Regions from separate parts of the Homo sapiens genome. Here region 2 is linked to region 1. The links come from fine-mapping of genetic effects on gene expression. A gene starts in region 1. The other region holds a variant in brackets. All regions are shown on one strand. Distances are between the middles of the regions.

Region 1 (4,392 bases):
TTATCTCCAATCCTTTTCTTCAAGAGGTTAGACAGGCCATACATCATAGTGAATCTGCAGCCTGGGGCCTAAGGCAGTTTGTACACTTCCAGAAGAGGGAAGCCACTTCTAAAACAATTTCTTAAGGAGACTTCACCCAACCCAAGAAGCTGGGTGTTGCCTGGGCCATTTCCCTCCTCTGCCCTGAAGCAGTGGCCAGCTCAGAGAGAACCCTGTTGTTTTGTGTTTGTGTGATCTTTGGGTGGATGTGTGCACACCACCTGCTGAGCTTCGCTGTGTGCGTGCCTCACCGCCAGCCCTAATCTGCCAGAGCTTCCTGGCCTTGCAAATGTTTCTGTGGAGGGTCCATATTAGACTCCAGTGGTTCTTGCAGTCTATAAAGTCTCCTTGAAGGTGATTCCCTGTTCCTTGAAGACAACTGGCTGGGCTGGATGCCTGAATATAGCTCCCTGACTTCTCTAAAGGACAAACTTATTGCCCCTTTAGAGAAGTCATGAAGCTTTGCCGGCAAGCACAGAGTCTAGCTTAGAAAACACAACCAGGGCCAGGAGTGGTGTGGCTCATGCCTGCAAATCCAGCACTTTGGGAGGCCAAGGCTTAGAGGATCACTTGAGCCCAGGAGTTCAAGACCAGCATGGGTAATATAGTGAGAACTTGTCTCTACAAAAAATTTTAAAACTAGCCAGGCATGGTGGTACACACTGGTAGTCCCAGCCACTTGGGAGGCTGAGGTGGGAGGATCCTTTGAGCCTGGGAGGCAGAGGTTGCAGTGAGCTGAGATTGTGCCACTGCACTCCAGCCTGGGTAACAGAATGAGACCCTGTCTCAAAAGAAAAAAATAAAAAGACCACCAGGGCCCAGGCACAGAGCCTGGAGCGGGGAAGAGATAGCGGAGTTAACTGTGAATCCTGATTGCACTGACCACAGTCTAGTGAGCAACACATGTTTCCTTTTGAATATGAGTGGGAATCACCTTTAAAACTATATAACATTTGCATCTTCTCAAAAGCCCCAGGTCCTACTAAGATTGACTTAGGGCTACATATCAGGTCTCATTTTCAAGGAGGAAACACAGGGAAGCCTCAAGATGTGCAGAAGAGAGGGATGTGGGGAATACACCCAACCACTCCTCTGCTGAGGTTGGAACAGAACAAGGAAAGTCCCCGGACCTCCTCTCAGCAGGCAGAGAAGTGCGGGGCCTCCCTCTGGCAAAGCCTGCAGATGTGGCCAGCATACCTCCATACACACAGCTTCAGAGGCAAGGGTGTCCAAGGGAGTCTTAAGTTTTATCAGAAATAATGTCATTCGACTGACCAGTAAGGGGAGCTTTCAGAAAGTTATGGAAGAAGATGCGACAGACACAGGAAGGACTTCAGAAGCAAGAAGACAACTGGACTCTCTAAAATGCCACTCCGAAAGCGAAAAGGGAAGCCCACAGACCCACGAAGACGTGCTGGCCTCGTGTTGCCAGTTCTGTTTCTCTTTCAATACCCATCTCTTCAGATTGAAGGGCTTCTGCCTTCTTGCAGTTTTTGCTGACACGTTTACCCATTTACAAACCTTGGCTGCACCTAACTTTTTTTTTTTTTTTTTTTTTTTTTTTTTTTTAGCATTTAAGTTCCTAGCCAAAATACCCGGGCCTCTAGGAAAGCCCTTTTCTCTCCCTCTGAGATCTTTCCTTACCAACCCCAGCCTCCCAACCCGGGTGTCCTAGGTGGGACCAGGGACGATCCTTCGGAGTTGGTCAAGGAGGCGTCGGAACAGCAGGCATTTGCCCTTCTAGTTGGCAGCAGCGATGAGCCGCGTGCTCCATGCTCAGGGCAGGGGCAGCCGCCCGGGGAAGGGGCGCCCGATACACCGCTCACCGCTCAGCCCCGCGTCTCCCTCCGGGGTCCTTTACCTCCATGTCCTTCAGGTGCCGACTCTGCGGCAGACGCACCCGCTCGCCCGGGCCGGAGCTCACGATCCCCGCTGTCCCCTCCGCTCCCGGCCGTGGCCAGTTTCGGGCTGCGGCGGGCACAGGGCGAGTGGGCGGTGGCGCGCGCCCGGCTGCGCTCGGCTGCGGGACTGCCCCGGCCGCGGGGGCCCTGCGCGAGAGAACGAGGAAGGAGGAGGAGGGAGGGAGGGAGGAAGGGGAGGGGAGGGGAGGGTGGGGAGCGGGGAGGGAGGCCGACGATCAGGGTTTAAATTTAGACGCAAATCTAAACAGATACTGTCCCTCCCAGGGCAGGACTCAAGAGCGGGAGCCACGACTCCATGTGCCCAAACATGGGGATGGGCAGCCACCGGGCCCCTCTGTCTCGCGAAGTTTCTCAGGACCCTGGGCTTTGCCACGGTCTCAGTCCTTCTCAACGTCTCCCTCCCTTAATGCGCCTTCTTTCTTTTTCCTGTCCCTTCAAGAATTAGAGTGGTCCTTTAATTCTTTTTGTTTCCTCTCTTTTCGATTTCCTTCTTTTGTGTCCATCCTTCCTGCTTTCCTTCTTCCTCTCCCTCTTTTTAAAATTGCATTACTGTCATACCTGGTTTCCCTGCAGTTCTTGGGTGGAGTTCGAGGACCCTCCCTGGTGGAAGGCGTTTGTGTTCTACCAAAAGAGGAGCCCTTCTGACCGAGGCTTCAGAGCTCAGCGTGGCGCCGACGGGACCACCTTTCCCTTCTCACCTCTTTTCCTCTCCACCTTCCAGGAAACCACTATCTATCCATCTATCCATCTATCTTCTGTATACGAGTAGAAGGAGGAGGAGGAGGAGGAAAATCAGGAATCCACGCAAAGTTTTCCAAGCTCCCTGAAGTGGTAAATCTTTTCTTCAAACCTTGCTTTGACTGATGCATTCGGTTTTGTGGGAATTTTGGCTCCCACAAGCTGCTTGCTAAAGGGCCTCGTCTCCATTCCTGTTAAATATAGCAAAGGGCAAGATGCTCAACATCTGATTCCCATAGGGCCCAGCATAGCAACCTTCCTTTAGGGCCATCCCGGCTGGGCAGCAGAGACCGCATGGGAGGGATTCGGGGACTGGAATCTGCACCAGGGTCACTCCCTGCTACCCGGATCCCGGCCCCCTTCAGACCCTTCGGCAGAGAGAAACAGGAAAATGCCTTGAGAGACCTGTGAGTGCCAGGGTATTGGCTGGGTATATGACGCCTCTGGGTTATCCCACAGCATTCTCACCCGCCCAACCCCAGCTCAACCAGGGGAGGGGAGCCCCATCAGAGGTGGGCAATGGGACAGGTGATGGTGAGCACTGTGAAGAGACATGTGGAGAAACAGTAGAGAAAAAAGGCTGAGAGTCTGCTCCTGCTACAAAGACTACCCTGATTCTGGTTATCCCGGCACCATCTTTGCACTTTCAGGCACTTAGATTGCTGCTTTGGGTACCAGTCTTAGAAATATGGCCTCCTTCCTGTCCTAGAACTTTCTAAGGCCCAACTTTCTAAAACACTGGCAGCCCTAATGCCAGAGTGGCTTCTAGTTCTTTAGCTTAGCTAAGCATAGAGGAAGACGCCTGGTTTTAGGAACAGACAGATTGAGGGCTGAATTCCAGCTCTGCTACTTTCTAGTTGTATTTTTTAGACAAGTCACTTAACTGCTCTGATTCTCATTTTCCTCACCTATACAATGTAGTAGGCACTCTGCAAAAAGTGGCTGTTTTTATCATGCTTAGCCCCATGTACAAGCTTCAGATGAATAAGAGCCTGATATTTCTTTTATTTAGAGACAGGCACTCGGGGACCCAGTGAAAAGAGCCCTCACTCCCAGGAATTAATAGTGAGGCCCCTCCCAGTCCAGCCACATGGCTGCTCAGGTGAAGACTCGAGAGCAGAGTCGGCAGTAAGGAAGGGTATTTACTGGTAACCTGCAAGGCACACTTTTGCTCGTGCTTCTTTCCTTTCTTTTTAAAGGTGCAGGACGTAGTGATGACTGCATAGTCTACTATCAGGTCTTCTAACTCTGCTCCACAGGGCCTTTTCCTTTCTCCCTCTACCTAGTCCTCCTTTGTGCTCAGAATGGGGCTGCCCCAGCACAGGTTTCTGGCTTCACAAACAGGAGGGCGGAAGTGCTTACCCAGAGGAAACCGTTAGGCCTAGATAACATCAGTCACCCAAGGTGACTTGCAGCTGCTCCCCACGCCCTGCTTAGGCCTCTCTTGGCTGAGAACAGATGACCACAAAGCAAACAAGCTTGGCCTCCACCATGCTCCTGGGTCCCCAGTGCAGAGTTTAATGCTGCTCCAGAGCTATTTGGGCCCCAGACTGGGACTTCTCCTGAGGGAGGGGGTGGAAAACGGGGAGGGAGGGACCAAGAGGTAGCCCCGAGCTGTGTTTAGGCAGCCATGAGTAGGTGTGGTGTGTGTACTCCCCTTATCTTCTTCTTCTGTCCCTACAGAAGATCTCCA
Region 2 (4,392 bases), 60 kb after region 1:
CTGCACCTACCTTCAAACTTCTGTCTGGAAACCACTTGTACTTTTTTCTTCAAATCTACTTCCTCCAGAATGTATCAACAGATTTGGCTTAAGAAGCATACTTGACACATAGGAGCTATTAAATTGTATTTGTTGAAAGACTGAAGGAATGTATGAAATCGTTTCATGCTCTACCAACTGTGTGTATATAGCATGAGCCGAATGGTACTCATTGAAGAAAATATAGTTTATTTGAAAGACACCCTGGACATAGAAAGTGCCCTGAACTTGAAGTCAGAAAACTTAGGTTTAAGACCTAGCTCTGTCACACATTATGAATCTCACTTAGGGTATGTCTGTTAATGGCTCTGGACTTTATTTGGATTGTCTGTAAAATGAGGCTACTAGGAATCTGCCAGAGGCTGCTGGCAAGATGGCCGAATGGAACAGCTCCGGTCTGCAGCTCCCAGCAAGACCAGCACAGAAGGCGGGTGATTTCTGCATTTCCAACTGAGGTACCCTGTTCATCTCACTGGGACTGGTTAGGCAGTGGGTGCAGCCCACGGAGGGTGAGCAGAAGCAGGGTGGGGTGTCACCTCACCCAAGAAGTGCAAGGAGTGGGAGAGCCTCTTCTTCCCAGCCAAGGGAAGCCATAAGGGACTGTGCTATCTGGCCCAGATACTATGCTTCTCCCACAGTTTTTGCAACCCACAGACCAGGAGATTCCCTCAGGTGCCTACACCACCAGGGCCCTGGGTTTCAAGGACAAAACTGGGTGGCTGTTTGGGCAGACACTGAGCTAGCTGCAGGAGTTTTTCTTTTCATACCCCAGTGGCGCCTGGAACCCCAGTGAGACAGAACCATTCACTCCCCTGGAAAAGGGGCTGAAACCGGGGATCCAAGTGGTCTCGCTCAGCAGTTCCCACTCCCACGCAGTCCAGCAAGCTAAGAACTACTGGCTTGAAATTCTCGCTGTCAGCACAGCAGTCTGAAGCCAATCTGGGATGATTGAGCTTGGTGGGGGGAAGGCATCAGCCATTACTGAGGCTTGAGTAGGCGGTTTTCCCCTGACCGTGCTAAAAAAGCCTGGAGGTTTGGAACGGGCAGAACTCAACACAGAGCGGCAAATTGGCTGTGGCCAGACTGCCTCCCTAGATTCCTCTTGCCTGGGCAGGGCATCTCTGAAAAAAAGGCAGCAGCCCTAGTCAGGGGCTTATAGATAAAACTCCCATCTCACTGGGACAGAGCATCTGGAGGAAGGGGCGGCTGTGGGCGTAGCTTCAGCAGATTTAAATGTTTCTGCCTGCCAGCTCTGAAAAGAGCAGCGGATCCTGACAAAGAGGGTTCTACCAGCGCAGTAGAGCTTGAGCTCTGCTAAGAGGCAGGCTGCCACCTCAAGAGGGTCCCTGATCCCCGTGACTCCTGACTGGGAGAGACATCCCAACAGGGGTTGACAGACACCTTATACAGGAGAGCTCCAGCAGGCATCAGGCCAGTGGCCCTCTGGGACAAAGATTCCAGAGGAAGTAGCAGGCAGCAATCAGAGGGTGCAGAGAAATAGGAACACTTTTACACTGTTGGTGGGAGTGTAAATTAGTTCAACCATTGTGGAAGACAGCATGGTGATTCCTCAAGGATATAGAACCAGAAATACCATTTGACCCAGCAATCCCATGACTGGGGTATATACCCAAAGGACTATAAATCATTCTGTTGTAAAGACACGTGCAAACGTATGTTTATTGCAGCACTTTTTACGATAGCAAAGACTTGGAACCAACCCAAATGCCCATCAATGATAGACTGTATAAAGAAAATGTGGCACATATACACCATGGAATACTATGCAGCCATAAAAAAGAATGAGTTCATGTTCTTTGCCGGGACATCGATGAAGCTGGAAACCATCATCCTCAGCAAACTAACACAGGAACAGAAAACCAAACACTGCATGTTCTTCCTCATAAGTGAGAGCTAAACAATGGGAACACATGGACACAGGGAGGGGAACAACACACACTGGGGCCTGTCGGGGGATGGGAGGCAAGGGGAGGGAGAGCATTAGGACAAATACCTAATGCATGCAGAGCTTAAAACCTAGATGACGAGTGATAGGTGCAGCAAACCACCGTGGCACATGTACACCTATGTAACAAACCTGCACGTTCAGCACATGTATCCCAGAACTTAAAGTAAAATACAAAATAAAAAAAAAAAGCTACAAGGATCTAGAACCAGAAATACCATTTGACCCAGCATTCCCATTACTGGGTATATACCCAAAGAATTATAAATCATTCTACTATAAAGACACATGCACACGTATGTTTATTGCAGCACTTTTTACAACAGCAAAGACTTGGAACCAAGCCAAATGCCCATCAATGAGGGACTCAATAAAGAAAATGTGGCACATATACATCATGGAATACTATGCAGCTATAAAAAAGAATGAGATCATGTCCTTTGCAGGGACATAGATGAAGCCATCATTCTCAGCAAACTAACACAGGAACAGAAAACCAAACACCGCATGTTATCACTCAAAGTGGGAGTTGAACAGTGAGAACATATGGACATAGAGAGGGGAACATCACACACTGGGTCCTGTGGG[G/A]GGATGGGGGGCAAGGTGAGGGAGGGCATTAGGACGAATACATAATGCACGCAGGGCTTAAAACCTAGATAACGGGTTGATGGGTGCAGCAAACCATCATGGCACATGTATACCTATGTAACAAACCTGCATGTTTTGTACATGTATCCTGGAACTTAAAGTAAAATAAACAATTAAAACCAAAACAAACAAATAAAAAAGAATGTGCCTGACATAACAGGAGTGTTGTGGGGATCACATGAAATTACACTGAGTAAAAATTCTATGGTGCTGTTTTATTGGGATCACTGGAATTGGATTGGAATTTCAAAACTGGAAGTTCCAATTCAGCAAAATTGGAAATTCAAAAAAGCTATGAACCTGTTTGTAAGAATATTCATCAAAAAGTAAAGTTCATAAATGTAAGTATAAATTCAGCGTAGTGAGCACAGGCACTGGGTCAGATGGAGGTGGATTTGAAAATAGTCTCCACCATGTATTTGCTCTGTGGCCTGAGAAAATCACATCAATAACATGGAGATAATAATACCTGTTTCAGAGGGTGATTGCAAGAATTACAATTAGATAGTATATCAAAGTAGGCTAGGCTATACTATGGTAACGAATAGTCCTTAAATCTCAGTGACTTCAAATAACAGGTTTATTGTTTATTTCCCACTCATAATACGTGTTTACTGTGGTCCCTGCAGACCAGCTTTGGTGGGAGAGGGATCTACTCTACACTGATCCAAGATACAAGTGGACAGAGCACCCACAATCTGGAACACAGCAACCTAGGGTAAGGGAAAGAGCCTTCTGGAGGGTCTGAATGGAAGTGATACATGTCATTTCCATTTAGATCTCAGTGGCCAGAACTAGTCATATGGCCCCACTAACCCTAAGTTGGCCCCCCTTGTGCCCAGAAGGCAGAGAGCCAGAAATATTGGGTGGACAGTATAATGCCTACCACAGATAGCACACATGATTACCTTTGGCACAAAATGCCCACTCAGATGTTCCTCCCACACACACAAACACAAATGTTATACACACACACACACACACACACACACACACACACACACCCTTTTTTTTTTTTTTTTGAAACAGTCTCATACTGTCACCCAGGCTGGAGAGCAGTGGCATGCTCACAGCTCCCTGCAGCCTTGATCTTCTGGGCTCAAGTGATCCTCCCACCTCAGTCTCCCTAGTAACTGGGACTACAGGTGTGTGCCACCATGTCCAGCTAATTTTTTTTTTTTTTGTATTTGTTGTAGAGATGGGGTTTCTCCTTGTTGCCCAGGCTGGTCTCAAACTCCCGGGCTCAAGTGACCCACCTACCTTGGCCTCCCAAAGTGCTGGGATTACAGGCGTGAGCCACTGTCCCCAGGCTTTCCTCCCTTTCTATGGAGGAATAAGATGAATTTAAGCAGTATGCTTGAAATTTATTTGATCAGCATATACTGAGTAACTACTTAAAGTTTCCCTTTGAAATTTTGTAAATGTGAAAGAGGGAGTTTTAAAATGGGCCCTAGAATTTATTTAAAAGAAGAAATATATTTCATTTAACAAAATGCTCAGAAAGCCATTTTATTGTGGAAAAATACTGCCATGCCTCGTTGGCTGTGCTAAGAGAAGACATTGAGCAAAATTATTGTACATATTAAAGGGAAAAGAATTTCAAGTTTCTTAAGGCAGCCTGGGAAGCTTTCTAGAATAGAGACTGAAACATTCAATTTTAAATAATCTGCCGTGGTACATGGCAATGTAACGCCTCCCCTAAATCTTCAACAAAAACCTGCTATGCTTTGGGTGAGCAG

The links. PIP is the estimated chance that this variant, and not a neighbour inherited with it, causes the effect.
Region 2: its variant is the best candidate, but not a certain one, in a credible set for the expression of RCSD1 in whole blood (INTERVAL, PIP 0.51).

The regions. Positions count from the first base shown.
Region 1 is chr1:167,627,938-167,632,329 of GRCh38, reverse strand. RCSD1 (RCSD domain containing 1) reads right to left here and starts at 2,098. Exons shown (of 7, transcript NM_052862.4): 1 at 1,901-2,098. The coding sequence starts at 1,906. RefSeq lists enhancers at 1,312-1,381, 3,900-3,949, 3,960-4,129, 4,210-4,269 and silencers at 1,922-2,141, 2,162-2,241.
Region 2 is chr1:167,568,371-167,572,762 of GRCh38, reverse strand. No RefSeq gene overlaps it. Among named protein-coding and RNA genes, the nearest start is that of CREG1, 17 kb to the right of the region's middle. The variant G/A (reference allele first, on the strand shown) is at 2,594.